7 separate regions of the Homo sapiens genome follow, and regions 1, 2, 3, 4, 5 and 6 are each linked to region 7. Evidence: fine-mapped expression QTL. A gene starts in region 7. Each other region holds a variant in brackets. All regions are shown on one strand. Distances are from middle to middle.

Region 1 (4,201 bases), 140 kb after region 7:
TGGGGTTTCACCGTGTTGCCCAGGCTGGTCTCGAACTCCTGGCCTCAGGCAATCTGCCCGCCTCAGCGTCCCAAAGTTCTAGGATTACAGGTGTGAGCTACCGTGCCCGGCCTGAATCTGCATTTTTAACCAGTACTCCTACAATCCTGATGTTGGTTACCCAGGACCTACCCTTCAGAAAATCCTGCAGGAGTGAAGGAACTGACAGAGGGACATTTGCCCATGAAAGCAGTCCATGGGGGCTGTCCCCATTGTTTCTTTAACTCAAGACAGCCTAACAATGATGTAAATCTTAAATACAAAGGTAGATGTTCACCTCTGCTTTTTTTCCTCCTTTTCAAGGAACAGGGTGGGCTCACTGTGGTTCCAAGAAGACCTGGGAGGAGAGGCAGGTGTGTGGGTGGGAGAAGGCGGGAAGAGGGAGGTTCACATCATTGGCCTCGCTTAGTTCTCTCAGCCCTCCTCCTCATCCCCACCCCCATCCCTCGGGGCAGGCAGCAGGGTGGATGGGGAAAAGCAGGGCTGTGCCCTAGGCTGACCTATGAACTCTGCTCCCACTCCAAACAGCTGTGTCACCAGCAGGTCACCTACACTCAGCCTAGCTCCAGCAGCTATAAAACAGAGGAAAACTACTGCAAAAGCAAAGCAGGAGAGGAGGGAAGTTGAATACCCTTGTACAACAAAACACTTAAAAACATCAGATAAAATACTTGAACCTGGGAGGCAGAGATTGCCGTGAGCCGAGATGGTGTCACTGCACTCCAGCGCCTGGGTGACAGAGTAAGACGCTGTCTCAAAAAAAAAAAAAAAAAAAAAAAAAAAACCATACATACACACTGGATAAAAGATGTTTCTCACACCTTTCTTTCCTCATCTGTAAAATGGGAGTATTAACATCACCTTTGTCATAGGGTTGTCATGGGGAATTAAATGAGTTAAAACCAGCAAACTGTTTACCACGATGCCTGGCATTTAATAAGGGCAAGTCCAAAAGATCAAAAATAGAGAATCTGAATCCCAGCACTTTGGGAGACCGAAACAGGTGGATCACTTGAGGTCAGGAGTTCGAGACCAGCCTGGGCAACATGGCGAAACCCCATCTCTGCTAAATATACAAAAGTTAGCTGGGCATGGTGGCAGGTGCCCAGCTAATTTTTGGGGATAGCTGAGGCAGGAGAATCACTTGAACCTGAGAAGTGGAGGCTCTAATGAGCCAAATCTACTACTTGATAATAAAAAATAATAAAATAATAAAAATCTACTACCTGATAAGACAACAAGCAGTTTAGTCTTTGCCTGGGCACTGAATTGTTAAAAAACAAAAATCTCCACTAAGATTCTGAAATCACAGACCTGTTAATACTTAGGATTTGAATATTCACAGCCCTTAATTCATATACAGAAGCCCTCAGGGCTGAGACATTAACAGAAGACGTGCTTCTAGGCTGGTCACACTCAGGCACCTGACCAAAGCAATCACGACCCCTCCAGAGGACACAGCCCTGCGACCCAGGATTACACAGATGATAGTTCACCAGACAGGAGCACAGGGTCCAAATTATTATATTATATAAAGTCCACCCAGAATAACCTACTGTGAGCAAGAGTCAGCAGGAACAACAGACTGAAACCCTCAAGAATGTCCTGTTACAGAAAAAGCAGGCCAGGCATGGTGGCTCAAGCCTGTAATCCTAGCACTTCGGGAGGCTGAGGCTGGGAGTTCAAGACTAGCCTGGCTAACATGATGAAACCCTGTCTATACTAAAAGTACAAAAATTAAAAATTAACCAGGTGTGGCGGCACACACCTGTAACCCCAGCTACTTGGGAGGCTGAGGCAGGAGAATTGCTCGAACCCAGGAGGTGGAGGTTACAGTGAGCCGAGATCACACCACTGCACTCCAGCCTAGGCAACAGAGTGGGACTCCATTTCAAAAAAAAGAAAAAGCAGTAAAGATTTAAAACAAGTATAGGCTGAGACAAGAGGATAGCTTGAGGCCAGGAGTTTGAGAACAGCCTAG[GCAACA/G]CAGTGAGACCCCATCTCTACAAAATATTTTAAAAATTAGTCGGTGTAGTAGCAAGTGCCTGTAGTCTCAACTACTTGGAAGGCTGAGGTGGGAGGATCACTTGAGCCCAGGAATTCAAGGCTGCAGGGAACTATGATTGCGCCACTGCACTCCAGCCTGGGTGACAGAGCAAGACCTTGTTTCTAAAATGATTAAAGAAATAAAAAATAGAGCATAAGAAAGAAATAAGATTATTCCCTTAAATCAGATTTTTTTTTTCAGTAAGAAGCAAAAGATTTATTGGATCTGAAGAGAAACTAGAGTATATTATATCAGATTTTTTAAATAGAACTTTTTCTCGCCCAGGCTGGAGTGCAGTGGCCCGATCATGGCTCACCGCAGCCTCAACCTCCAGGACTCATGCAATCCTCTCGCCTCAACCTCCCAAAGTAGCTGACACTACAGGTGTGTGCCACTGCACCTGGCTAATTTTTTAAATTTTATTTTTGGTAGAGACAGGGTCTCTACCAAAAATATAAGCAGTTAACATGTATTGAGTACCTGCTGTGTACTAGGTGCCTGGGGGCTCCCAGGGATGTGTGTAGTAGAGTCTCGGGCCTCAGGCCTTTTCAAATCCTGCTCCTCTGTGTCACGATTATTCTTTAAAAGCCAGTCCCCATGCACACTGCAGAGCCAGGAGCCTAAGACCCGGAGAGGAGCGGGGTGCAGGGAAGCCTGGCCCCACAACCACAGGCTGGAGGGAAGGGTGGGGTCAGACTAAGGCCCCTCAGCGGTCCAGGACCCACGGAAACCCAGATGGAAAAGGGGCAGGGAAAGAGAGCCTGGCTCAGGGGAAGCAGACTACCTAAGGGGCAGTTTGCAACTCTGCATGCTCCTTAGAAACATCGAGAAGATGATGCTGAGGAGGGGTGAGAGACTGGGAGGAAAGCAGCTTCAACTCAAGCTGAGGGCCTCCCAGGGGCCAAATGGAAAGGAGCCCACGTCTCTGGGGATGGAGAAGCCTGGAGTGGAGTGAGAAAGGCTGGGATCCTCGCCTCGAGTTACAGGAGGAAGCAGGCCTGGCTCCAGCTCTAGCCAGGGGTGCCCCAGGAGCACTGGGGGAGCATGTGAAGTGCTTACCAGGGTTACTTGGCTGAGTAAGGTGAGAGCAAGCCTGTAACTGAGCTCTTCCAGCCCAGTCTCTACAGGGGATCTCCCACTCTGCAGCAGCACCTGTGGCTCTGGAGCACCACCCCGGGAGGGAACCCAGCAGGACGGGAAAAGCCAGGGAAGCCTATGTCTCCTCCCAGGGGCCTCGGCTTTGAGAATGAGCTACCCCTGAACTCTCATCTGTTGTCAAGATGTGTGTTTTATTTCCACAGTGGCAGGTGGTCCTTTCCCTAAAATCTGTTCCCTAATTTTAAGAGTAATACGTTCATTATAGAACATTTAGAAAATGCAAAATAGTATTTTCTAACTCCCATTTCCATATTGGTTATTTCCTTCCATTTTCTTTCCTACATATATGCACAGGTTTAACATAATTCGTACCTTACCCTACATACAGTTTGGCATTCTTGATGTTTTCCAGTTCACGTTATATATGAGAATGTGCCAATCCTTCTTTTCGTTTTTTTTTTTTTTGAGATGGAGTCTCACTCTGTCACCCAGGCTGGAGTCCAGTGGCGCAATCTCAGCTCACTGCAGGCTCCACCTCCCAGGTTCACACCATTCTCCTGCCTCAGCCTCCCGAGTAGCTGGGACTACAGGTGCCCGCCACCACGCCCGGCTAATTTTTTTGTATTTTTAGTAGAGATGGGGTTTCACCATGTTAGCCAGGATGGTTTCGATCTCCTGACCTTGTGATCCGCCCGCCTCGGCCACCCAAAGTGCTGGGATTAAAGGTGTGAGCCACTGCGCCCGGCCGAGAATGTGCCAGTCTTTATTTAATCATACAATGAAATATTACGCTCCATTGTTGATGCTACATAAATAGCATTATATAGGCCGGGTGTGGTGGCTCATGCCTATAATCCCAGCACTTTAGGAGGCTGAGGCAGGTAGATCGCTTGAGGCCAGGTGTTCGAGACCAGCTTGGCCAACATGGCAAAACCCCATCTCTACTAAAAAAAAAAAAAAAATAGAAAAATAAGCCAGGCATGGTGGCACACACCTGTAATCCCAGCTACTTGGGAG
Region 2 (4,201 bases), 53 kb before region 7:
TGGACCCTGCTTTAAGAATCACCACACTGGGCCAGGTGCAGTGGCTCACGTCTGTAATCCCAGCACTTTGGGAGGTTGAGGCAGGCAGCTCACTTGAGCTCAGAAGTTCAAGACTAGCCTGGGCGACATGACAAAACCCAATCTTTACAAAAAACACAAAAATTAGCTGGGTGTGGTGGTGTGCACCTTGCAGTACCAGCTACTCGGGAAGCTAAGGTAGGAGGATGGCTTGAGCCCGGGAGGTGGAGGTTGCAGTGAGCTGGGATCACTCCACTGAACTCCAGCCTGGGCGACAGAGCCAGACCCCATCTCAAAATAAATACATAAATAAATAAATAAATAACTACACTGCTTTGTAGTCTCCTTTACTGCTCCTATGGTGCCACCCAATAAATAGCTGAGAAGATGAAGGTGTCCAAATGGCGTGTCATACCATGGCTACTCCAGTATTTATAGAGCAGTCATACACTCAAGAAATACACTTGAATATTTTCTGATAAGAAGAGTTTAAGGGTAAAAAGTGGATATGTTATCAAACAGCATTCCACATAACTAACATTCCTTAAAATTCTTCCGTACCCATTACAGAAATAAAACCATATTCCTTTCTAATTTTAAAAACTCTTGATGCCTCTTCAGGGCCTCTTTAAAGTCCAGGATCTCCTTAGCAGGGGAGCACAGAGCCTTTGTTAAGCATGAGGCTCCTGCTTCTTTTCTTGCCTGCCCTTCTTCTGTTCTCCAACTTGTACCCAATGTCCCAGCTTTCTAGAATACACTAGGGTTCTGGAACATATCACATGGAGTGGATTAAGCATTCGTGTTCAACAGTACATCCCTATTATCTTTATACCAGTTTAAAAGAATTAGGTATACTGACAAAGTAATAACATGAGATTTCAAAATGTATACAAAGTATAATCTTATGCCTCTTCAAAAAACACACACACAAAATTATACTTTTACATATGTTCAAATATGTGTATAAAGACATAGAGAAAAATCTAGAGAGATTTTTATCAAACTGATAACAGTGTTTATAAGAAGGGAGTGGGATTAACAGCAATCAAGATAGAATTTTTTTATCTGTATTTTTGAAATTTTTAAAAATGTATTTTAATCTTTTGTAGAGGTGAGTTCTCACTATATTGCACAGGATGGTCTCGAACTCCTGGGCTCAGGGGATCCTCCCATCTCGGCCTCCATAACTGCTGGGATTACAAGCATGAGCCACTATACCTGGCTGAAATTTTTTAACATACTAGTATTTGTGTAATTTAAAAAATAAACAGGCTGGGCACGGTGGCTCATGCCTGTAATCCCAGCACTTTGGGAGGCCGAGGCAGGTGGATCCTGAGGTCAAAAGATAGAGACCGTCCTGGCCAACATGGTGAAACCGCATCTCTACTAAAATACAAAAATCAGCTGGGCATGGTGGCACACGCCTATAGTCCCAGCTACTTGGGAGTCTGAGGCAGGAGAATCGCTTGAACCCAGGAGGCAGAGGTTGCGGTGAGCCAAGATTGCGTCACTGCACTCCAGCCTGATGACAGAGCAGGACTCTGTCTAAATAAATACATAAATAAAACAATAGTGAATACATGACACGATGCATTTGTCAAAAGCCATAGTCCATTATAGGACAAAGATTGAACTTTAACATATGCAAATTTTAAAAAATCCTTTAGAGATCAGGGGATCCTAGAAAAGATGCAGAATCTGAGAAAAAAAAACTATATTATAAATGTATGAACAACCTTACTGAAGCAGGTAGGCAGAAAAGGTGCTGAACTAAGTCACTTTGGAAATGACTGAAGTCTGTAAGACTAAAGGCAAAAGGAATACACATAAACACTATATTCCAGTTGATCAGGTTGTTTCCCACAGGGTTTGTAAAGGCCAACAATTTGGAAACCATTATAAAATTTGGAAACCCCTATGTATACTGGAATTTACCAATTAAGCAAATGGATGGTGGATGATGGGAGCAGGTGAAAACTCACTGTTGGAGTGTGAGGTTATAGATAAGCGAGGAGAGAAGAGGCTACAATGATCCATGTAGTAATGGATTGGAGTTGGAGATATCAGTATGAATTCATGCTTAGTGTGATATAGACAGAAATGTATTTATAGATATGTTTATATATATGTCAATATACACATATATATTTCCTTGCTATGTCAGCTGAGAAGGCATAGAAACAACAACAACTCAGTAGCAGTGAGCACCCTAGTGCCCAGATCTTGGTTTCTAATACCATTCTCCAAGGAAAGGAACCAGGGCTTCTTGGGAAAATGACTGATTCTAGGGCTGGGGCAGGGAATATACAAGATGAGCCTGGAACACCTTGTGCCAAAAAGTATAGAAGTATCCCCATATCCAAAAAACACCCAGAATGAGGGGATCAATGAGACAAGCAACTGAAAGAGCTCCCAG[C/T]GGCCAAAGCTGGCATAATTTAAGCAACAAAATAAATTTTAAAATAGCTTTGGATTAGAACCTAAAGTATAAGATAGATATCCATGAGTCCATATGGACATAAATAAATAATTGACTGAATAGATAGCTGGGCATGCTGGCTCACATGTGTAATCCCAGCATTTTGGGAGTCCAAGGTAGGAGGACTGCTTGAGGCCAGGAGTTTGAGAAAGCCTGGGCAACACAGCAAGATCCCATGACTACAAAAAACTTAAAAAATTAGCCAGGCATGATGGTGTGAACCTGTAGTCCTAGCTAGTCTGGAGGCTGAGTTGAGAGGATTGCTTGAGCCCAAGAGGTCCAGGCTGCAGTTAGCTATAATCAGGGCACTGCACTCCAGCCTAGGTGACAAAGCAAGACCCTGTCTCAAAAACAAAGAAACAATAAATAGATAAATGAAGAAGAACAGACATATCTTCCATGGAGAAGAATTCCAAATAATTAAGGTAAATAGTCTACCCTCAAGGAGGTGGAGTGTAACTCCCCATCATGTCTGGGCTACACACAGTGACATCCTTCTAAAGAGAACAGTGTGGAAAGGGGATGAGGGGGAGAATATAATTACAGCAGAGAAACATGACAATCACAATCTCAGCCAGGTGATGAAGTTTAACACCTCCAGTGATATGCCATGTTGATAGTACATGCCCTTCATATGATATGATGAGAATATCACTTTATTCGTATGATCTTCCTCCTCCCAACACATATCCCCAGTCTAATCATGAGAAAAATATCAGACAAATCTCAACTGAGAGATGTTCTATAAAATACCTGACCATACTCCTCAAAGATAGAGTCATCAAAAATGAGGAAAGCGGCCAGGTGCGCTGGCTCACGCCTGTAATCCCAGCACTTTGGGAGACCAAGGCGGGTGGATCGCCTGAGGTCAGGATTTCAAGACCAGCCCGGCCAACATAGTGAAACCCCCTCTCTACTAAATACAAAAAATTAGCCAGGCATGGTGGCACATGACTGTAATCCCAGCTACTTGGGAGGCTGAGGCAGGAGAATCGCTTGAACCCAGGAGCGGAGGTTGCAGTGAGCCAAAATTGTGCCATTGCACACTCTAGCCTGGGCAACAAGAGTGAAACTCTGTCTCAAAAAAAAAAAAAAGGAAAGTCTAAGAAATAGTAACCACTAAGAAGAAAATAGGAGATAGGACAACTAAATATAGTATGGTATCTCAGCCTGGCACAGTAGCTCATGCCTGTAATCCCAGCAGTTTGGGAGGCTGAGGCGGGCAGATCACCTGAGGTCAGGAGTTCGAGACCAACCTGACCAACATGGTGAAACTCCATCTCTACTAAAAATACAAAATTAGCCAGGTGTGGTGGCATACACCTATAATCCCAGCTACTTGGGAGGCTGAGGCAAAATAATCACTTGAACCCAGGAGGCGGAGGTTGCAGTGAGCCAAAGATTGTGCCATTGCACTACAGCCTGGGTGACACAGCAAGACTCCATCTCAAATAAATAAATAGAGTATGGTATCTCAACACATTAAAAGACATTAGGTAAAAAACTAAGGAAATCTGGGTCAGGTGCAGTGGCTCACGCCTGTAATTCCAGCACTTTGGGAGACCAAGGCGGGTGGATCACCTGAGGTCAGGAGTTCGAGACCAGCCTGACTAACATGGAGAAACCCCATCTCTACTAAAAAAATACAAAATTAGCCAGATGTGGTGGCACATGCCTATAATCCCAGCTACTCGGGAGGCTGAGACA
Region 3 (4,201 bases), 69 kb after region 7:
CGTTCTCGGGAAGCAAGAGCCCCAGGCCCTCTCCTGGTAGGGGACCAACCATCCCCACTTGCTGGGTACTGTCCCAGTTTTAGCATTGAAAGTTCCATGTCCTGGGAAACCAGGACAGCTGGTCACCCTGTTGCCTGACCATACCCTAAGATGCCAGGTTGAGGGCCTCAGAAGAACCAGGTCATCAGGGCTTTGGGCGTTGGCCTGGGAGCTGGCTGGCTACAAATCCCGTGGTCCACATCGCCTTCTGCCCCCAGGAGGCCATGACAAGGCAGCCAGGCTGCTGCTGGACTGGACAGTGGTGAGGGTGGCCATCTAATCACTTTAGACAAGAGCTGCAGGTGTAACTGACTCTGCTGTTCTCTGGGCCACCTCTCCCGCAGCTCAGGAGTGATGCTAGAGGGACGGAGCACTCAGGACTTCCCACCCCGCCAATTTGTTAACTGTGGGGAATGACAGAGCTGACGTGACTTGCTCCCCATTCCCAGCCTGCTGGTCCTCGGGCTCCTACATGAATGTTCTTGCCCTGCAGCAGTGCCAGCCCATATTCCCACCACAGCTCTCCCAGGACTCCTAGTTCAGGTTCCCACCAGTCCAGGGACCACAGGACTGAAGACTGGGCCCTGCAGAGGGCCGCATCCAGGTCAGTTCTCAGGAAGCAATAAATAGATGGAGGTTGTCTTCTCTTCTCAGGGCAGCAACTGGCTCTCAGCACTAAAAACAAGGCCTCAAACCCGCAGGGGCTCAGAAAATACCTGGCAATGCCCACCTGTGCCTGCTGATCTGGAGGTAACTTGGAGGCACGTACTGCTTAAAAACCTCCAGGGAGCCCAAAGGAGGGAAAGGGTCCTGTTTTTTTCAAGTGACAAGGCTCAGAGAGGGCAGGAGATCTGCCTGAGTTTGCACAGCAGCTGTGAGTGCCGAGTCCAGGCTGCAGGCCCCACCTTGCCTCTTCCCTTGGGCATTCCAGAGCCCACTACTGCTGTAAGCTATCTATCCAGACCAGCTGCACCCCACCCACCACGTGCTGCTCGGCCCACCCGCCCCCAGCCCCCAGGCTTGGCCTCCCATGGGCCTCCCTCCCTTCCAGGGTTCCAGGCCTGTGGCCTCTGCCCCTTGCTGGGTGGGCATGAGGAGGGTGGCCTAAGGTAGGGGGGCTCTTGCGCCTTCCGGAGACATGAGCATGTCAAACTTGATGAGCGGCGGGGCGATCACGCGCACCTCGGCGTTGAGTGGGTTGAAGCGGAGGTTGATGCTGCGCAAGGCTGGCATGGCGGCCAGCTTCTCCACGGGCACATCTATTGGGGACAGAATGGACAGGTTAGAGTGGTGGAGGCCAACCAGACAGAAAAGAAGGACAATGGGCCATGAGGACTCTGAGCACCTGATGGTGAGGGGCAGCTCTCCATTGCCCACTGCACGTGGGCTCAGCTCCTGGTGCCCAGCCCTGTGCAAAGGGCCATCGGGCCCACCAGGATATAACAACCACATGGAGGAAAGCATCCTTAAAAATAAGAATCAACTGCTTCAAAAAGTTAAACGTAGGATTGCCATACAACCCAGCAATTTTACTCCTAGGTAGAACTGAAAGAATTAAAAACAGGCATTCAAACAAATAATTTTACACAAATGTTCATAGCAGCACTATTTATAATAGTCAAATGTCCACCAATAGATGAATGGATAAACAATATGATATATACTATGTTGTCCATATATATGTCCATATATATATGATATATGGAATACTATGTAGCCTTTTAAAGGAACGCAATTCCGATACAGGTTACAACATGAATGAACCTTGAAAACATTGTGCTAGGCCAGTCGTGGTGGCTCACGCCTGTAATCCCAGCACTTTGGGAGGGTGAGGCGGGTGGATCACGAGGTCAGGATTTCAAGACCTGCCTGGCCAAGCTGGTGAAACCCCATCTCTACTAAAAATACAAAAACATTAGCCGGGCATGGTGGTGGGTGCTTGTAATCCCAGCTACTTGGGAGGCTGTGGCAGAGAATTGCTTGAACCCACGAGGCGGAGGTTGCAGTGAGGGGAAATCGCACCACTGCACTCCAGCCTGGGCGACAAAGCAAAGCTCTGTCTCAAAAAAAAAAGAGAAAATATTGTGCTAAAGAAAGAAGGCAGGCACAAAAAGACAAATACCGTATGACTCCACTTATGTGAGGTACATAGAGTAGTTGAATTCATAGAAACAGAAAGTAGAACAGAGGTTCCCAGGGGCTAGGAGAAGGGGAA[G/T]TAGGGATTTATTGCTTAATAGCTACAGTTTCTGTTGGAGTGATGAAAATATTTTGGAAATAGATAGCGGTGATGGTTGCGCAACATGGTGAAAGTAATTAATGCCACTGAGCTACAGTATGCTTAAAAATGGTTAAAATCAGCCAGGCTATAGTCTCAGCTAGTCAGGAGGCTGAGGCAGGAGAATCTCTTGAGCCCAGGAGTTCAAAGTCAGGATGGGCAACATAGTGAGACCCCAGTCTCTATTTCTTTTTTTTTTTTTTTGAGACGGAGTTTCGCTCTGTCGCCCAGGCTGGAGTGCAGTGGCGCGATCTCGACTCACTGCAAGCTCCGCCTCCCAGGTTCACGCCATTCTCCTGCCTCAGCCTCCCGTGTAGCTGGGACTACAGGCGCGCGCCACCATGCCCAGCTAATTTTTTGTATTTTTAGTAGAGACGGGGTTTCACCGTGTTAGCCAGGATGGTCTCGATCTCCTGACCTCGTGATCCGCCCGTCTCGGCCTCCCAAAGTGCTGGGATTACAGGCGTGAGCCACTGCGCCCGGCCCTCTATTTCTTAAAAGAAAAAAAAAAGGTTAAAATGGCACATTTTGTTATATATATTTTATCACAATTAAAAAATAATGTAATATGCCAAAACCACCGAATTGCATATATTAAATGGGTGAATTGTATAGTATGTGTCAATAAAACTATTAAAAAACAAAGACTATTATGTGCATAAAGAATATTTTTGCCAAGAGAGAGGAAGTCGCATACAGTGGCCTATGGAAATTCTTCTTAACTATGGGAATGCCACTCTATCATGCCATCTGCTCCATCATACCCCTAAAGAGTCCCTAAAGAAGCAGACATGACTATCTTGGGTCTATCTAAGGGAGGTTAGTTACAGTTTGAATTTATCAGGACTCCTGATAATGTGCCCTACCTATATCACTGCTCCATAAGAGCTATCTGGGAAGTTCCAGACTATATTGGATCATCACTATGCTGGATCATCACTTAGAGATGGAATGTCCTCTGGAATCAAAACAAACATATCTCCTGTCCCAGCTCTAGTTTCCAAAATTTAACGTGTAGAATTTGGAAATCAAGTTTCAAGCTGTCATCCACCTAACTTACATAAGATACTAGGGCATTTTCCAACACTCATCAAAAATGCCACAGTGTAATAAATATAAAGATAGTAGTGATCTATAATTAATTCCAGGTCCAATATTCTCAGTTATAACTGAAGACGCAGCACAGCCTAGTGTCATAGACATGAAATTTAAGACAGCCCTAAGCTGATGCCCCAGCTTTACCACCTAAAAATTTGTATTACTTCCCGTACCTTGTTTTCCTAATCTTGAAAATGGACATAACTAATATTTCCTCAAACAGAATTAAATTGGGGAGCAACTGCTTAAAGGATATGGGGACTCCTTTGGGGTGACAGAAGTATTTTGGAATTAGATAGAGGTGATGATTGCACAACACTGTGAATGTCCTCAATGCCAATGAATTATACACTTTATGTGGTTAATTTAAGTGGTTAATTTTATGTTATGTGAATTTCGCCTCAGTTTTTTTTTTAAAGGACCAGAATAAGGCAGCAGCTATACTAACACTTGGTAACCTGTTATAGTTCCTCCCACCTAACCTTTAGGATCACTCAGACAACACTAGGACGCTTGCCCTCGACGCGTGCCCTGTGCAAGCTGAGGCTCTGGCTGCATCCGCTCTTCCCCGATCCAATTCCGTGAGCAGCCGGATCCCAGAAAACCTCCCACCCTAGCACAGGACGGGGCCAGACCTCATCCCATGCAGTCCGACACAACCTCAGGCCGATAGTGATGGCAAGAGCCAGCTCCTGTCCTCTCCTAGGCACAAAATATTGCCCACGGTTGGGGGCTTTTTGTTTTTGTGGTTGTTTTGTGTTTAATTTTAGAACACACTAATGGATATTA
Region 4 (4,196 bases), 24 kb after region 7:
GCCCGGGGCCTGGCAGAGCTTGCGCGCGATGCGGGCGTACATGACCACGATGAGCGCCAGCGGCGCCAGGTAGATGTGCGAGAAGAGCACAGTGGTGTAGACCCTGCGCATGCCCTTCTCGGGCCAGGCCTCCCAGCAGGAGTAGAGCGGGTAGGAGCGGTTGCGGGCGTCCACCATGAAGTGGTGCTCCTCACGGGTGACGGTCAGCGTGACGGCCGAGGGACACATGATGAGCAGCGCCAGGGCCCAGATGACGGCGATGGTGACGAGCGCCTTCCGCAGGGTCAGCTTCTCGCGGAAAGGGTGCACGATGCAGCGGAACCTGCCGCGGGGAGAGAGACAGGCGGGATCTGGGTGGGTCCTAGGGCCCCTGCGAGGGGACGGTGGGTGGGATGCGGGCACCTGACCTTCATCATCGCATCTAGGGCGGCGTCGAAGAACAGCTCAGACCTGAATTGGCTGAGTAGTCAAAGAACAAAGGCAGCTACAGGATTTATGAGAAGGGAGGAGGAAACCGCAGATCGTGTGGGAACAATGAATCCTGTGTGCACTTTTGCACTTTTCTCCTTTTTTTTTTTTTTTTCCTGAGACAGGGCCTCCTTCTGTCGCCCAGTCTGGAGTGCAGTGGCGCGATTACGGCTCCCTGCAGTCTCCACCTCCCGGGCTCAAGTGATCCTCTCCTCCCACCTCAGCCTCCTGAGTAGCTGGAACCACAGGAATGCGCTGCCACCTCGCCGGCTAATTTCTTTCAATTTTTGGAGAGATGAGGTCTCACTGTGTTGCCCAGGCTAGTCTCAAAGTCTTGGGCTCAAGCTATCCTCCGGCCTCGGCCTCCCGAATTTCTGGGATTATAGATATGAGCCTCCTTGCGGGGCCATTTGTGTACTTTTGGGGGTCAACTGATTAGCTGGCAGCTAGCAGAGCGATCAGAGTGCGCAGTCTGTCCTCGACAAGGACGATTAGGTGCGTCAAATAACACAGTTTCTGTTTATGGATTCTCCAGAAAACCTCAGGAGGTCAGATGTAGAGCCTACATGTCAGGCTGTCCCTATGTCATCTTGGCCATAGTATCAGTATCTCTACAATGCAAGGACAAGTCTGCACCATTTATTTCCTCATGAGGACAACTCAGCATCTGTTATTACACCCTTTATTATTTTTTAAAGGTGAGGCCTTTAAGATAGTTACTACACTGTTGATTTACAGACAAGGAAACTGGGACTCGAGTGTTAAGCAGTTGGCTCAAGTTCACATAGCAAGTTGCAAGGACCAGTCTTGAACCCAGATTTGTCTTGCTTCATATGCCATATAAACCAGTAGCTGTAAACCCTCCATGTGCATGAGACTCTCCTGAAGCATTTCAACAACAAAGACAAAACCCGTGCCTATTTTTTCAGGCCAAGGATTCCAACCTAATTAGTCTAGAAAGTGGTTTTAGCATTATTTGTTATGTGCTGTTTTTGTTTTTAAAGCTCCTGGGGTCAGGTGCCATGGTTCATGCTTATAATCCCAGCACTTTGGGAGGCCAAGGCAGGAGGATCACTTGAACCCAGGAGTTGGAGACCAGCCTGGGAAACATGGTGAAACCCCATCTCTACCAAAAAAATTAACCAGATGAGGGGATGCTTGCCTATTCTTCCAGCTACACAGGAGGCTGAGGCAGGATAATCACTTGAGTCCAGGAGTGTAGGGAAAAGAAAGAGAAATCAGACTGTTATTGTGTCTGTGTAGAAAGGGAAGACATAAGAGACTCCATTTTGAAAAAGACTTGTACTTTAAACAATTGCTTTGCTGAGATGTTGTTAATTTGTAGCTTTGCCCCAGCCACTTTGCCCCAGCCATTTTGACCCAACCTGGAGCTCACAAAAACATGTGTTGTATGAAATCAAGGTTTAAGGGATCTAGGGCTGTGCAGGACATGCCTTGTTAACAAAATGTTTACAAACAGTATACTTGGTAAAAGTCATCGCCATTCTCTAGTGTCAATAAACTAGGGGCACAATGCACTGCGGAAAGCCGCGGGGACCTCTGCCCTTGAAAGCAGGGTATTGTCCAAAGTTTCTCCCCATATGATAGTCTGAAATATGGCCTCATGGGATGAGAAAGACCTGACCGTCCCCCAGCCCAACACCTGTAAAGGGTCTGTGCTGAGGTGGATTAGTAAAAGAGGAAAGCCTCTTGCAGTTGAGATAGAGGAAGGCCACTGTCTCCTGCCTGCCCCTGGGAACTGAATGTCTCAGTATAAAACCCTATTGTACATTTGTTCAGTTCTGAGATGAGAGAAAAACCACCCTATGGTGGGAGGTGAGACATGTTTGCAGCAGTGCTGCCTTGTTATTCTTTACTCCACTGAGATGTTTGGGTGGAGAGAAACATAAATCTGGCTTACGTGCACGTCCAGTCACAGTACCTTCCCTTGAACTTAATTATGACATAGATTCTATTGCTCACA[G/T]GTTTGTTACTGACCTTCTCCTTATTATCACCCTGCCCTCCTACTACATTCCTTTCTGCTGAAATAATGAAAATAATAATAAATAAAAACTGAGGGAACTCAGAGACCGGTGCCGGCGCAGGTCCTTGGTATGCAGAGCACCGGTCACCTGGGCCCACTGTTGTTTCTCTATACTTTGTCTCTGCGTCTTATTTCTCTTTCTCAGTCTCTCATCCCACCCGACTTGAAATACCCACAGGTGTGGAGAGGCAGGCCACCCCTTCACAGGAGGTTGAGGCTGAGACTGCAGTGAGCCATGATCAGACCACTGCACTCCAGCCAAGGCAATAGAGCAAGACCTTGTCTCCAAAAAAAAAAAAAGCTCCTGGAGAAGTCTACTGTGCAACCAGAGTTGAAAACAGCTGCTGTAGGGGGAGGTAAAAACCTCCCCCTGCAGCATGGTTCAAAGACGATTGCTCAACTGCAAGCTCTGTGAGGGCAGATGCCTTGACTTTTCATCTCAGTATTCCTAGGTTGTGATTAGATAAATGCATGAATGACCAGAGGGGAAGTTACTCAAAATACTTTCTGAGCCTTAGTTTCCTCATCTGTAAAATGAAGCCCATAGTATGACCTACTCTGTTGGGTAGTTGTGAAGATTAAGTGAGATGACACTGACCACACTTCTTGAGACATTTCAAATGCTTAATAGTGAGGAAAAAGGAGGGGCTCCTATTCCCCAGAATGGCTTCTGTCATCTACTGATGCCAGAAAATAGAAACCTGAAGAATGTCCAGTCAATCTTACTTGTTTAATGGAGGGGAAAGCTTGCCCAGTGGGGGTCTTATGGTCACATGGCTGTTTGGAGTCAGAGCCTGCCCTGGAACATAGGTCTAGAGCTGACTCTCAGTCAAGTGTCCTTTCCACTTCGCTACACTGTGTCCTGCCCTCCTGCCAACCCAGTTTTTGGCCTGATAGCCTGACCTTTTACCTCTCCCACAGCCTGACTCAGGCCTTGTTATCTCAACCTATATGACTTTGACCTACTGGCTTCATACTTCACATACTCAAGAAAGCTCCAGAGAATAGTGGCTTATGTCAGCACTTTGGGAGGCTGAGGAGGGTGGATCACTTGAGGACAGGAGTTCGAGACCAGCCTGGCCAACATGGTGAAACCCTTCTCTACTAAAAAGACAAAAATTAGCCATGCATGGTGGTGCGCACCTGCAATCCCAGCTACTCCGGGGACTGAGGCACGAGAATGGCTTGAACCCGGGAGGCAGAGGTTGCAGTCAGCCAAGATCGCCATGGCACTCCAGCCTGGGTGACAGAGCAAGACTCTGTCTCCCCCCTCAAAAAAAAAAAAGAAAGAAAGAAAGAAAAAGAAATCTCCAGAGAATAAATAATTCTTAAAGCCTGTAGTGCTGGCTATGAATGCAATAGCAGTAAATGGGTGGAGGAGAATCTTGGGGTAATCTGGGCAGGCTTCCTGGATGAGGTGGGACTTGAAGAATACTGCAAACACCACTGGGAGAAGTTGTACACTCTCATTTCCTTCAACAATGATAACAAAACAAAGGTCGATGAAGGGAAGGGACTTCTCCTGATCACCCAGCTAGTTAGTGGCCTTGTGGAGAGTAGAACCCACTTCATTACTCCAGCTGCCTACTTCACTGAGTTACAAAAAACTGGGCTTGAGGTGGAGAGAGGATGTGAACACTAGATTCCACAAAGGGCAGGGTTAAGATATGCCTGTGCTGGGGAG
Region 5 (4,201 bases), 120 kb after region 7:
CAAAGTGCCTGCTGCTTGCAATTAGTGATCTCAGCTTGTCATGCATTAACTCAGTTAACCCCCACAACATCACAACATCCCCATGAGACAGGCACTATTTTGTATTTTTTATTTTTTTGAGACAGAGTCTCACTCTGTCACCCAGGCTGGAGTGCAGTGGTGTAATCTCGGCTCACTGCAACCTCCGCCTCCTGGGTTCAAGTGAGTCTCCTGCCTCAGCCTCCTGAGTAGCTGGGACTACAGGCATGCACCACCACGCCCAACTAATTTTTGTATTTTTAGTAGAGAAGGGGTTTCACCATGTTGGCCAGGCTGGTCTCGAACTCCTGACCTCAGATGATCCATGAGATGGGCACTATTATTACTATTCCTGTTGTACAGAGGAGGAATCAAGACACAGAGCCAGGAGTCTTGGTTAGTAAGCTGCTGAGCTTAAGGGTTTGCTCCTAACCACCATGCTACACTGCCTCCCTAGAATATGTAACCCGCATTCAGGACAGCCTGCCATGCTGAAACAGATTGGGAGGTGGTGGGTTTCCAATGAGCAGATAGATCTTCCATGATTTACAATGGGTTCCCTGGGAACACTAGTATATTGCAGTTCCCATGGAACTATATAAAAGGGGACTTAGAGTTGAAAGAGCTGGTGAAAGAGTCATCAGGGTATCAACAGCCTGGATTTGTCACTTACTGTCTGTGGGACCTTGGGTCCTTATGCCCTTAGTTTTCAAATCTTGGTAAATTGCAACTGATCATCTCCAAGGCCCCTTGCAGCTGCCACTGTGGATTCTAGGACTTGGCCACAACCAGGAGCCACCTTGGGAGCTCTATAGACTCTTGATGCCTAAGTCTCTCTCCCAGAGAGTCTGATTTAATTAGTGGGGGCTGGGGCTTGGGAATGGAAGGGAGGGTAAAAGCTCCCTGGGTGACTCTAACGTGCAGCCAGGTGAACTCTGCACCATACCATCACCTCTCAAACTAAAGTGTGACACCTGGGGACACTGCCAACGTGCAGATTCTGATGCCACATGTCTAGGTGGGGCGTAAGAGTCTGCATTTCCACCCAGCAGGTCCAAGGACCACACTAAGTAGCAAGGGCTACTCCAGTGCAGTGGTTCTCCAAGGGCATCAGCATCACCCACAGCATTAGCATCACCCCAGAACTTGTCAGAAAGGCACATTCTCAGGCACCACCCCAGTCCCACAGAATCAGAAACTCTGGGGGTAAGGCCCAGGCATCTGTGTTTTAGCTGAAGCATCACTGGCCTAGAGGGGCCAGGCCTCCTCCTGATGTAGCTGCTTCCTGTATTGATGATGATAATGGGGTGGTAATGACAGTAACTGAGTGCTGGCTGCTCCTGCCTGCCTAAGGGCATGAGGTTTACACGCTCATGGAAATTTTTTGTGCCCTGGGTTCCTCCTGCTTCCCCTCTGAGCAGACTATTTCAGGACAGAGCAGCAGAGACAGAGTCTCTTCACTCTCTTCTCTCGCTTTGTTCATGCTTCTGGTACTCAGAGGCACACGTGACCCTCGGTGTGGAGGCCGCCCTGGGCTGTAACTCAGGAGGCCTAATTCTTATCCCAGCCCCTCCACTATCAGCCAGGGGGAGCTCAGAGACACTACTTCTTCATGGGCCTTGTCCCCTCATCTGTAAAATGAGGGTTTGGACTAGATGATTTGGGGTCTCAACCAGACCAGACATCCTCTGACTCCATGATTCTACTAAACAAAGGCTCTTCAGACAGCCCTCTGTCAAACAGGAGCCCCCCATGACTTGAGCTGCCAGTCTCTGAAATGTCACTCAATTTCCAAAGTAGGGACACACAGGATGCAGACAGCGAGCAAAACAACTGCTCATCAAGGGATCGTGCCGTGCATCACTGGGCACAATTAGGCATCACTTTAACAAAGCTGTTTGTTGTAGTGCTTACAGAGCTGGCTGGCTCTAAAAGGCTTAAGACAAAAAGCAGCCGGACTTGCTCCCTCTTGACAAATCCCCTCCCCCAGGGACAACCACTTTCAGGTCTTTGGGGGTGTTTTACTCCCGATCTCTAGAGCAATGTTTCTGAGCCTGTTTCCTGTCTCATGCCCCTTATAGAGAAAAGGGCATGGGAGGAAGAGCTCACCGAGGACCACATACGTCCAGAAAGTCCCACCGCAATAGCACACACAGCTACTGGGCCCGGGAGGGTTGTCGGGAAGAGAAGGGCAGAAAGGCACTTCGGGAAGG[C/T]GCGTCTTCTGAGACGTGGGGAAACCACTCAACTTGAAAGTGCCAGTGGGTTTAGGGGGATTTTTTTCTTTCACTTCCTATTTCATGGACTTGTATATTGTGCAAGAGTTTTACAAGCACTTAATGACTTCTTACAAATATCTCCAGTTTAAAGAAAGGAACATCCCCAACATGCAGTGACCCTTGGGGTATGTTTTTCCTCAAACGCCCAAAAACCTGGATCAGTGGAGATGGGTGTTGATGGGGACATAGGGAACAGAGCTAAAGTCCTGCCAGGGCAAAGCTCACGGGAGCTGCTGGGGAGAGCAGCCGCACGCTCAGAGGGCTGTGTGGACACCCCTCTGACAAACGCACACACGAATCCTGCATCTCAGAGGTGCCTTCTCACGTCCTGCTGCAGAAGCCCCTGCCTCTCTAGGAAATAATGTGCTACAGAGAGTTGGCCTCAGAGAAGAAAGCTGAGCATGAGGCCCTCCAGCCAGTGGCTATCATACTCAGTCAGAATAACTTCTAACCACACAAGAGACCTAGAAAGCAATATCTTCTTCTCAGAATCCAAATTGAATCCTTTCTTGGGCCAACTCTTTCTTGCTGTGGGACCTCAGGCAAGTTACTTAACTCCAATCTCAGTTTCTTCTTCAGTAAAGTGAGGACAAGAGCTCTTTCAAAAACCTGTATGCAATCTGGGCATGGTGGCTCACGCCCGTAACCCAAGCACTTTGGGAGGCCAAGGTGGGAGGATCACTTAAGTTCAAGAGTTCAAGACCATCCTGGGCAACACAGTAAAACCCTGGTTCTATAAAAAATACAAAAAGTAGCTGGGTGTGGTAGTGCATGCCTGTAGTCCCAGCTAGCTACTTGGGAGGCTGTGGTGGGAGGATCGCTTGAGCTTGGGAGGCAGAGGTTGCAGTGAGCCAAGATCATGCCACTGCACCCCAGCCTGGGCAACAGAGCCAGACCTTTTGAGACTTTGTCTCAAAAAAATAAAAACAAATAAATAAAGTTTTAAAACCTGTATGTAGTGCTGGGCAGAGTAGCTCACACCTGTAATCCCAGCACTTTGGGAGGCCGAGGCGGGCAGATCACGAGGTTAGGAGTTTGAGACCAGCCTGGCCAATATGGTGAAACCCCGTCTCTACTAAAAATACAAAAATTAGCAGGGTGTGGTGGCAGGTGCCTGTAGTCACAGCTACTCAGGAGGCTGAGGCAGAAGAATTGCTTGAACCCAGGAGGCGGAGGTTGCAGTGAGCCAAGATCGCGCCACTGCACTCCAGCCTGGGCAACAGAATGAGACTCCACCTCAAAACAAAACAAAACAAAAAACAAAGCAAAACAAAAAAAAACACCTGTATATAAATGTTCACAGCAGCATTTTCACAATAGTTGAAAAGTGGAGACAATCCAAATGTCCATCAGCTGATGAACAGATAAAGGACATGTCATATATCCATTCAATGGAATATTATTCAGCCATAAAAAGGAATGAAATCCTGACATGGGCTGCAACATGAATGAACCTTGAAAACATTTTGCTATGTGAAGGAAGCCAGTCACAAAAGGACAAATGTTGCATGATTCCATTTACATAAAATGTCCAGAAGAGGCAATCTATAGAGACAGAAAGTAGACTGGTAATGGCCTGGGGCTGGGCGGAGATCAGGAAATGGGAAAGGACTCCGCATGGTACAGGGTTTCTTTTTTGGGTGATGAAAATGGCTTAGAATTAGACAGCAGTGATGGTTATACAATCTTGTGAATATACAAATAAATACTGCATTGTATATTTTAAAATGTAAACGTTACAGTATTTGAATATACCTCAAAAAGAAATGAGGACAACAGGATCCAACGAACAGGTGGTTCTGAGCATGAAATAAAACGTCTGCAAGGCTCTTAGCACAGTGCCTGGCAGGTAGTTTGTGCTCAGTAAGTAAGAGATGCTGCTATGAGGATGCAAAAGTATTACTTTT
Region 6 (4,000 bases), 87 kb before region 7:
TTTATTTAGTCTTCACGACCCTATAAACTAGGCACTGGCATTATCTCCATTTTAGGTGGTATAACTGAGGCCCAGAGACGCTCAGTAACATTCCCAACACCAAACAAAGTGGGAGGAGCCAAGGCAAACACAACACTTTCCTTCACTGCCTCGTTGATACCCACAACAATCCCGTCAGTTGGTGGGTCAGATATGACATGGTTTCACTCCTCTGGGTCCCTATTTACGTACACGCTAACACTTCTGTAGCACACGACGTGACAGGCTCCGTTCCACGACATTCAGCGTCAACTCCCGGGGAGGCAGCTTAGACAGGTTAAGTGACTTGCCCGGGATCAGACAGGGGCGTCCTACTACACACTCTGCAGGGGTAGCTTCCAACAGACCTGGCAGTCTCCTTAGGAGCAAGGGGCATGTGGGGGGAGTGGAAGGAATCTGGTGGGGGCCACACACCATAGGCAAACCTTCATCATCAGTCTTCCCTATAAAGTCATGGCTGTCCTATAGGCCACAGTGGGGACACCTATGGCAAAACTGGGCAGTGTTACCCACACCTGGCTAAGCTTGGGGATTCAGGAAGAGATTTGGAAAAGCCTGGGCTGCAAGGCTGGGCTGAACCATGTACAGCTGCGTGGGCCACCCCCCTACCTTCTGATTACGTAGAAACTCACGTTTCACTCAGACGGGAAGCTCTGGCTAAGCACTAAAAGATGGATAAAATTAACATACCCATCTCCTTACCCCAGGAGAGCACCATCCTGGGCCTCTGGGACCTTATCACTTTCAGAGGAGAAGCAGCAGGGTTAGGGAATCTCTGTTCAAAGGGCCAGAGAACCGAGGGGTATGGCGTGCAGGGCTATCAGACAGTGAAGCTGCCCAGAAGAAACTCAGCCTTTGAGGGGAGCTCAAAGATGCCCTGTTCCGGATTCAGGGTGTCCCACAGTACCCAAATCCAGAGCTGCTTCGAGCTTGACACCTTGCCCCAGATTCTCCCCACAGGGGTTCTGGGTATAAAGGATGAGGGGAGGGTTCCAGGTCTCTACCCACTACACGCCCAAAGCATCCGCGTGACACAAGAAAGGCCTGCACAATACTCAAGAGTATTAGGGCTGGACCCAGATCTGAGACCTGGAAAGGGATGAAGTGGCGTCAGCCCTGCGGGCTTACTTGGGGGTGGTGGAGCGCACCAGGACCCTGGCTGCTTCCCGAGGGGACACGTGCCGACAGGTCACTACAAGGCGGGGTGCCACAGCCACTCCGGAGCCCCATACGGTGCCGCACTCCACCAACACTGCCGCGGCTGCCCACAGGGGCCCGGAGTCTCGGAGGGGCAGACCCCACGGGACGCCCACCTCTGGCGGCAGAAGGGCGGCCAGGGCAGCGGTGCTGTGCGGCAGGCGGTGAAGCGCGTCGCGGGCGGCGCGGAAAAGGGGGGCGGCGGCGCAGAGCAGCGTGAAGCCCACCCATTCGCCGGCCTTCCAACAGAGCGGCGCCACCACCAGCGCCACCAGCGCCCCCGCGGGCCGCGCGGTGAACACGCCGCCGCCCTCGGTGCCGGGCAGGCAGCGTGCGTCGGTAAGCAGCAGTGGGCCGGCCACGTTGCTGAGCACCCCGCAGCTCAGCGTGTTGAGAAAGATGTCGGGGCAGAAGGCGCCGAAAGGGGAGCCGCAGACCAGCAATGGCGCACCCTTGGGCACGGCCCCGAGAGGCGACACCGCCATGGCTGGCCCGCGCTCCTCCTCCACCTCCTCCTGGCCTAGCCGCACGCCCAGCAGCGCAAACCAGCCCAGCGCTCTCAGTTGATCCGCCTCCTCGTCCTCCGACACTTCGTCATCCCGCGCCGCGCTCGAGAAGCGCCACTGTTCCGCTGCCTCGTCCCCGAAGAGGCGCGCGAAGTGGGCCCAGAAGGCCGGGCAGCTCAGCAGCAGCAGCAGCTCAGCAGGAAGCCGGGGCTGCAGGGGACGCCCGCGGGACGGGGCAGGTGGGCCGGGCTCG[A/G]GGCTCGCGCACTGGGGCGTGCACAGCCCTGGGCGGCCCCGCTCCGCGCCGCCCCCGGGACCCGCGGCCGTTGGGGCCCACTGCACGTGCAGGCGCAGGTCGTCCCTGCAACTGTCGCCAGGCAGGAAGACGGCGCCGGCCGCGGTCAGGACTTCGCTGCCAGCTCGCAGGAAGGGGACGAAGATGCCCCCGTGGCAAAGCACCAGGCCCGGGCTACGGCTCAGGATTACCCCGCTGCAGCTCCACGGGCCCGCCTCGGGCTGTCCGGCCCGGGAGGCGCTCACCATGCAGCCCGCCTGCTCGGCCGCCCTCATGGCAGACCCCCACTGCCTTCTCATGGCCTCTAGGCCGGACACTCGGGAGCTTCTCCGAGAAACAGCAAGCTAGCGAGCGAGGACCCCTACCCGGTCCGGCTGAAGCTGCCTAGCGCCACCCACAGCTGGAAGCGAGAGGCGCAAGCTCTGACTCACGTCTTCCTCATCGAGCCCGATTGGCTAAGCCCCAATTGACCCGACCCGATTGGCTGGGCTTGTACCGAGCTCTGATTGGCTTCCTATTCTGATTTTTTTTTTCCTTTCCCCGCCCTCGTTAGTTTGTCCAACCGGTGGGACATAATCTGCCCCATTCCCCCGGATGAGCCCCGGGGAGAGTAAGAGGAGTGCGGCGTCACGAGGAATCAGAGGAGAGGAGGGTGGGTCCCTTCAAGCCTAGTCTCGTTTGCTGGAATGTGGGAAAGGGAATAGAAATGAGCGCTGACGTGCCTAGATTTGCCCAGGCCACGACAGTACCTGTGAGCATCTGCCCAGGTCTAGGCGACCTTCAGCCTCTGACCCTTGGGATAATATGGACCAAGGAAATCCTTGGCCAATTCAGTGTTTTGAAAATTTAAAAGTAAACCCTATAGCAATCCACTAGGGGGCATGGAACTCTCAAGATTACTCCTAGGATTTTTTTTTGCTGCCAAAGCCCCAACACAAATCTCCGAGAAACTGGATTTGCTGTAAATTAAATTGCCCTTTAAATCGACTATGAACAGTAGCTGAAATCAAAAATTTTAATCATACAGGCCTATATTTTACAGTGTGCACATTTCACATAACATAACCACCAGCCAGGATTTATCTAGGCCAGGGTCCAAATACTTTCTGTAGAAGGCCAGAATGGAAACAGTTCCAGTTTGGGGGGACCATACAACTTGTCTCAAATAGTCAACTCTGCAGCTGTTGCATACAAAAGCTAAAGGAATGGCGGTGGCTGTGTCCCAATAAAAAGATACAGACATTGAAATTTTAATTTCATACAATTTTTTGTGTCCAAAAATAGCATTCTTTAAATATTTTTTCCAACCATTTAAATATGTAAAAACCTTTCTTTGCTCACAGGCCATACAAACACAGGCAGCAGGCCCGATTTGACCCACAAGGCATAGTTTACCATCTCTAGTGTACACTAACATAAACTGCTCTACTTTTCCAAAGAAGTACGCTTTAGGACAGAGGAGGATGAACGAGTATGTCGGGGAGTGGGGGGGCGCGGAGCTTCATGATACCCTCAATCAGTCACCACAAGCTAGACAGTTTACAAAGGTCTGCTTTATCACTGAATTGATAAAATACACATTATTTTTTATTTATTTATTTATTTTTTTGAGACGGAGTCTCGCTCTGTCGCCCAGGCTGGAGTGCAATGGTGCGATCTCCGCTCACTGCAAACTCCGCCTCCTGGGTTCACGCTATTCTCCTGCCTCAGCCTCCCCAGTCGCTGGGACTACAGGCGCCTGCCACCACGCCCAGCTAATTTTTTGTATTTTTAGTAGAGACGGGGTTTCACCGTGTTAGCCAGGATGGTCTCGATCTCCTGACCTTGTGATCCGCCCGCCTCGGCCTCCCAAAGTGCTGGGATTACAGGCGTGAGCCACCGTACCCGGCCATCATTAATTTTTATTAAGGTTACTGTATTGCTTACCATATACAATTGCTACTTAAATTCTCTAATCTTTCTGCCT
Region 7 (4,201 bases):
AGTTGCAACAAACATCTTCACAAATAATTTCTATTATATTCTAGATATATATTACTAATATATTCTAGAGGCCTAACTATAGCCAAAAAGTAATTTTAAAACTTCTTCAGTATTCTTTAGGAAACCTACTGTCCACATCGCATCCCTTCAAGTTTAAAAATCAAAGTGGAGGCCAGGCACGGTGGCTCACGCCTGTAATCCCAGCACTTTGGAAGGCCAAAGCAGGTGGATCACTGGAGGTAAGGAGTTCAAGACCAGCCTGGCCAACATGGTGAAACCCCGTCTCTACTAAAAATACAAAAATTAGTCAGGCATGGTGGCAAGTGCCTGTAATCCCAGCTACTTGGGAGGCTGAGGCAGGAGAATCACTTGAACCCGGGAGGCTGAAGTTGCAATGAGCCAAGATCATGCCACTGCACTCCAGCCTGGGCAACAGAGCGAGACTTTGTTTCAAAAAACAAACAATAAAACATAAAAGTCCCTTTAGGGCCAATTGTGACTTTGCAGTCTGTCCAGCCCTTTATCAGTTTTAAAGAAATTGACAAATGTAATATTATAAAGCTTAAAAAAGTTTATTTCTATTAAGGAAGGATAAAGCACTTAAAATTGGATAACTATGTAGTGGGTTCTAATTATTAGTATTTCTTAAGTTCCAGAGAGTTCCACTTGATAAAAACAGTTACTTCAGCTAGTGCCAAATTCTAGGAGTAGCTTTGGTCTCCCATAACGGCCACCAAATATTAATTGCAAATAAATAACCTAAGTAAAAGCAGTGTGTTTGTTCTGCATATATAGCTTGAAGATCCACCCCTCACCTTCAAACCAGACAGTCACCTCTGTAAGCCTTTCCTACAGAGAAATTCTGGAGCCAACACTATTTCCAGAAAAACAGTCCCATGAATTATTAGTCAAAAGTTACTGGACTGTCCTTGCTGCTTAATTGCAAAATTAAATAAAATGGAGAGTGGGGGGTAGTTCTCACCCTTCCTGGATTTTACCTGATAGTTAACCTTTGGCTAGATGTGTAAGCTTTACAGTTCGCTTTCCTTTTCCTCCCGCACCAGGCTACTTTTTGTTCCTTCAATGCCTATTCATTCGTCTCCTCTACTCCCCGCTTCCCCTTCCTTCATACACCAACTCAGAGTTCGAGGCACCTGCCCATTTCCTTCCAAATAAAACTGTAAAGAGGTTACAATAGAAGCGCCTGTGGTGACACATTTACGAACGCCTCCGTTATCGCCCATAATCTACTCCTAGTAGCTGGGGGTGGGGGGAGTAAGAGGATAAAGAAAAACCCCAAGTAGCTTTCCTCCACCTACAAGGCCAAAAAAACGTGGTGCCCTAAGGAGCGTGGAGGGCGCCAGCATGCAGCCTCCCGGTTTCCCCGTGCAGCCCTAGGTGCAGGACCCGGGGTAGGTACCCCCTAGACGCCGAATCCTGCAAAGGTAAAAACTTGGCACTTTCTCAGTCTTGTTTCCAGACTGACGTCATCTGTTTGATTTGAGGGAAACAGCTTTCTGTTTCATAAGGAGCATTCCCAGCATCGGCGCTGAGGGAAAACAGGCGGCGCAGAGGCAGGAGCACGACCGGGCCGCGGAGGACCGGTCCAGCGCCTTCACAGACGGCTCCCGATCCGGGCCTCAGTTTTCCCGTCTGTAAAACGAGGGGGTGGACTTGGCTCCGCTCAGCGCCGATAATCTGAGCTACGGCGGCGGAATTAAGGTCTTTAGGAAGTCACTGCCCCCCCCGGCCCGGAGTCGCCTTTTCTCCAAACTGAGCAATCCTCTTACGGGAATTATGTTACTTCCAAGCACCTTTCTAGGGTGGGTCGGTGATTTCCTTTTCCCAACAGACCCTGTCAGAGCCAGACACCTGCAAAACTAGCTGGGCCCAGGTTCGGGTACCCCGAGGCGTGACAAAGGGACCATCTCCGTTCAGCGGGGAGGGATGGCCGGAGGCGACCCTCGCCGCCCCGACCGGCGGCGGCAAGTATGCAATGTGAGGCCGGCCAGGCCCCACAACGCGCCCGAGGAGACGGGCCCGCGTCGGAGACCTGGGGCCGAGCGCGGGCCGCACCCTCCCGGGGAGGCAAGGCCCGGGAATGAATGGGCGGACGGGCGCGGAGGGGCCACGGGCCGCAGACACTCACTGAGGAAGACTCGGTACTCCAGGGAGAAGGGCGCGGCGCGCTCCTCGGTGCTGAAGCCGCTCATAGTGCCGGAGTCCTGCCGCCGCCGCTGCCACAGAGCCACCAGCCCGCACGCGGCGCCGACTGACAAGGAGAGAGCCCCACGCCTGCGCACTGCGAGCACTGGACCGGCGGGCGGGGCGGGGAGCGCCTTTAACGCGGCTCTGCTAGTGTTCCCACCCCCGCCGGGCCAACCCCGTGCGCAGGCGCACTCCGCCAGGCCCGGGTGTCCGCACTCCCCAGCCCCGCCCCTCGGGCCCAGCCTCCGCGATGGCAGCTAGGGCTCAGAGGCTGGGCCACGTGGCTGCCGCCGGCGCTGGTTCTGTTCCTTCGGCTTTGGGCTCTGACCCGGGAGGGCAAATGCGCAGGCTCTAAGCTTGGACTAGCTAGGAGTTGACCGCCGACCACGCACACAGGGAACTCACCTTTGATTCTCACACACTCCTCCCCGCAGTCCTATTCCTTATCTCAAAAGGCGTTGATAAGTCACCTGCTTCCCCAGACAGGCTCTGCTTGCGGTCTTAAAGGTGAGCATTTTTCTGATCCGTCGTAACAAAGTTGAGCCATATTACTGACACCCCTAGTGGCTACTAGTAAGGTACTCGCTTCTCCACTTTCTATAATCTCTCTCACTCCGTTGCTTATCTGGGAAGTGAAGATAATAATATAACTATTTCATGAGTTACTGGGATGATTACCCGAGTTAATACACGTCAAATGCCTGAAGCAGAGCCTGTATCTTTGTAAACAATCTGGAAGTTGTTACTGTCACCCTCCCCAGTGGGGGAGGATTTACGCCCCCGCGCCCCCCGCCCCCTCCATCCCCCCTGCCACCCTACTTAACCCACCTGGGTCTCCAGGGGCTTCAGATGGAAGCACTGGGAAGGTCCAGGCGTGAGCTAGAGTCCCGTGAAGGAGTGTTCTCAGGGACAGGCTCTTCTGATCTTGATTTCCTGTTTATATTCCATCATATCAGGCCAGACCCCAAAAACTAAAGTCTGATTGAGGCAGTGGGAAAATATTTGCATCACTTACCTCCCCAGGAATACATGTAAAAGAAAAAAAGTATATCCACAATCCTAAATATAAATTAGCAAATTATTATTCACATTTCAAAGAATGCCTGGTTTTATTTATTTATTTATTTTAATTTCATGGCCAGGATTTCTTTAAATAACTTTTTCTAGAACATTAAAGATAATGTGCCTTAATGACATTTTGAATTAAACCCTTTTTTCCAAACAATGTCTATTGTAAAAAATGAATATTAAATGAAAACCTAGTAAGATCTCCAGTTAGTTATGGTGTCGCTCCCTTTGTCTCCATCCAACTCCCAAACCTCACTGACACCCATTAATTTTCAGAAGGCTGTGATTCACTGATTTTTTGAACATTTCACCACACTGTTTTACTGCTGTTAAAACAGAAGGGCAGGAAAAAAAATTAGCGAAGCAATAGTTTAGTCAATAATTAGGGTCAAGGCCAGGCGCGGTGACTTACGCCTTCAATCCCAGCACTTTGGGAGGCCGAGGTGGGCGGATTACCCGACGTCAGGAGTTGGAAACCAGCCTGGCCAACACAGTGAAACCCTGTCCCTAGTAAAAATACAAAAATTAGCTGGGCGTGGTTGCACGCGCCTGTAATCCCAGCTACTCGGGAGACTGAGGCAGGAGAACACTTGATCCCGAGAGGCGGAGGTTGCGGTGAGTTGAGATCACGCCAGTGCATTCCAGCCTGGGTGACAGAGCGAGACTCTGTTTCAGAAAAAAAAGTAGGATCAAGTTCAAAGAATATTTTAAGGGGATGCTCTTTTGATTGAACTGCTCTATCACTTTTCTGCCTTTGAGCAGATGGAACCAATTTTCTTGGAAAAACCCAGACTCTCATCTGTGACTGACTTAAGAAGACAGCAGTGATGCAATAATAATGTTCTACATACACTTTCCCTTTGCCTCCTGCCAGCTCAGAGCAAGATAATAAAGTCTCACTGACCTCCAGACTTGCACACTGGCT

The links.
Region 1: its variant is fine-mapped to the expression of PPA1 in whole blood (INTERVAL, PIP above 0.99). The same link has a PIP of 0.9 or more in monocytes.
Region 2: its variant is fine-mapped to the expression of PPA1 in lung (TOPMed, PIP above 0.99). The same link has a PIP of 0.9 or more in tibial artery.
Region 3: its variant is fine-mapped to the expression of PPA1 in whole blood (TOPMed, PIP above 0.99).
Region 4: its variant is fine-mapped to the expression of PPA1 in adrenal gland (GTEx, PIP above 0.99). The same link has a PIP of 0.9 or more in ovary.
Region 5: its variant is fine-mapped to the expression of PPA1 in blood mononuclear cells (TOPMed, PIP above 0.99). The same link has a PIP of 0.9 or more in monocytes and whole blood.
Region 6: its variant is fine-mapped to the expression of PPA1 in lung (TOPMed, PIP above 0.99).

The regions. Positions count from the first base shown.
Region 1 is chr10:70,368,811-70,373,011 of GRCh38, forward strand. All of the region lies in intron 2 of LRRC20 (leucine rich repeat containing 20), which reads right to left. Among named protein-coding and RNA genes, the nearest start is that of LRRC20, 12 kb to the right of the region's middle. RefSeq lists an enhancer at 90-591. The variant GCAACA/G (reference allele first, on the strand shown) is at 2,021.
Region 2 is chr10:70,177,892-70,182,092 of GRCh38, forward strand. No RefSeq gene overlaps it. Among named protein-coding and RNA genes, the nearest start is that of SAR1A, 9.5 kb to the left of the region's middle. The variant C/T (reference allele first, on the strand shown) is at 2,435.
Region 3 is chr10:70,300,211-70,304,411 of GRCh38, forward strand. LRRC20 (leucine rich repeat containing 20) reads right to left here. Exons shown (of 5, transcript NM_001278212.2): 5 at 1-1,298. The coding sequence ends at 1,144. Among named protein-coding and RNA genes, the nearest start is that of NPFFR1, 18 kb to the left of the region's middle. The variant G/T (reference allele first, on the strand shown) is at 2,255.
Region 4 is chr10:70,255,506-70,259,701 of GRCh38, forward strand. NPFFR1 (neuropeptide FF receptor 1) reads right to left here. Exons shown (of 4, transcript NM_022146.5): 4 at 1-322. Among named protein-coding and RNA genes, the nearest start is that of PPA1, 24 kb to the left of the region's middle. The variant G/T (reference allele first, on the strand shown) is at 2,453.
Region 5 is chr10:70,353,318-70,357,518 of GRCh38, forward strand. The region is part of intron 2 of LRRC20 (leucine rich repeat containing 20); the gene reads right to left. Among named protein-coding and RNA genes, the nearest start is that of LRRC20, 27 kb to the right of the region's middle. RefSeq lists enhancers at 2,029-2,128, 2,349-2,558. The variant C/T (reference allele first, on the strand shown) is at 2,232.
Region 6 is chr10:70,144,254-70,148,253 of GRCh38, forward strand. TYSND1 (trypsin like peroxisomal matrix peptidase 1) reads right to left here and starts at 2,447. Exons shown (of 4, transcript NM_173555.4): 1 at 1,168-2,447. The coding sequence starts at 2,333. It overlaps SAR1A (secretion associated Ras related GTPase 1A), which reads right to left. Exons shown (of 7, transcript NM_020150.5): 7 at 3,036-4,000. RefSeq lists silencers at 1,349-1,578, 1,909-2,218 and an enhancer at 1,709-1,758. The variant A/G (reference allele first, on the strand shown) is at 1,996.
Region 7 is chr10:70,231,115-70,235,315 of GRCh38, forward strand. It overlaps PPA1 (inorganic pyrophosphatase 1), which reads right to left and starts at 2,315. Exons shown (of 11, transcript NM_021129.4): 1 at 2,150-2,315. The coding sequence starts at 2,213. RefSeq lists a silencer at 1,957-2,526.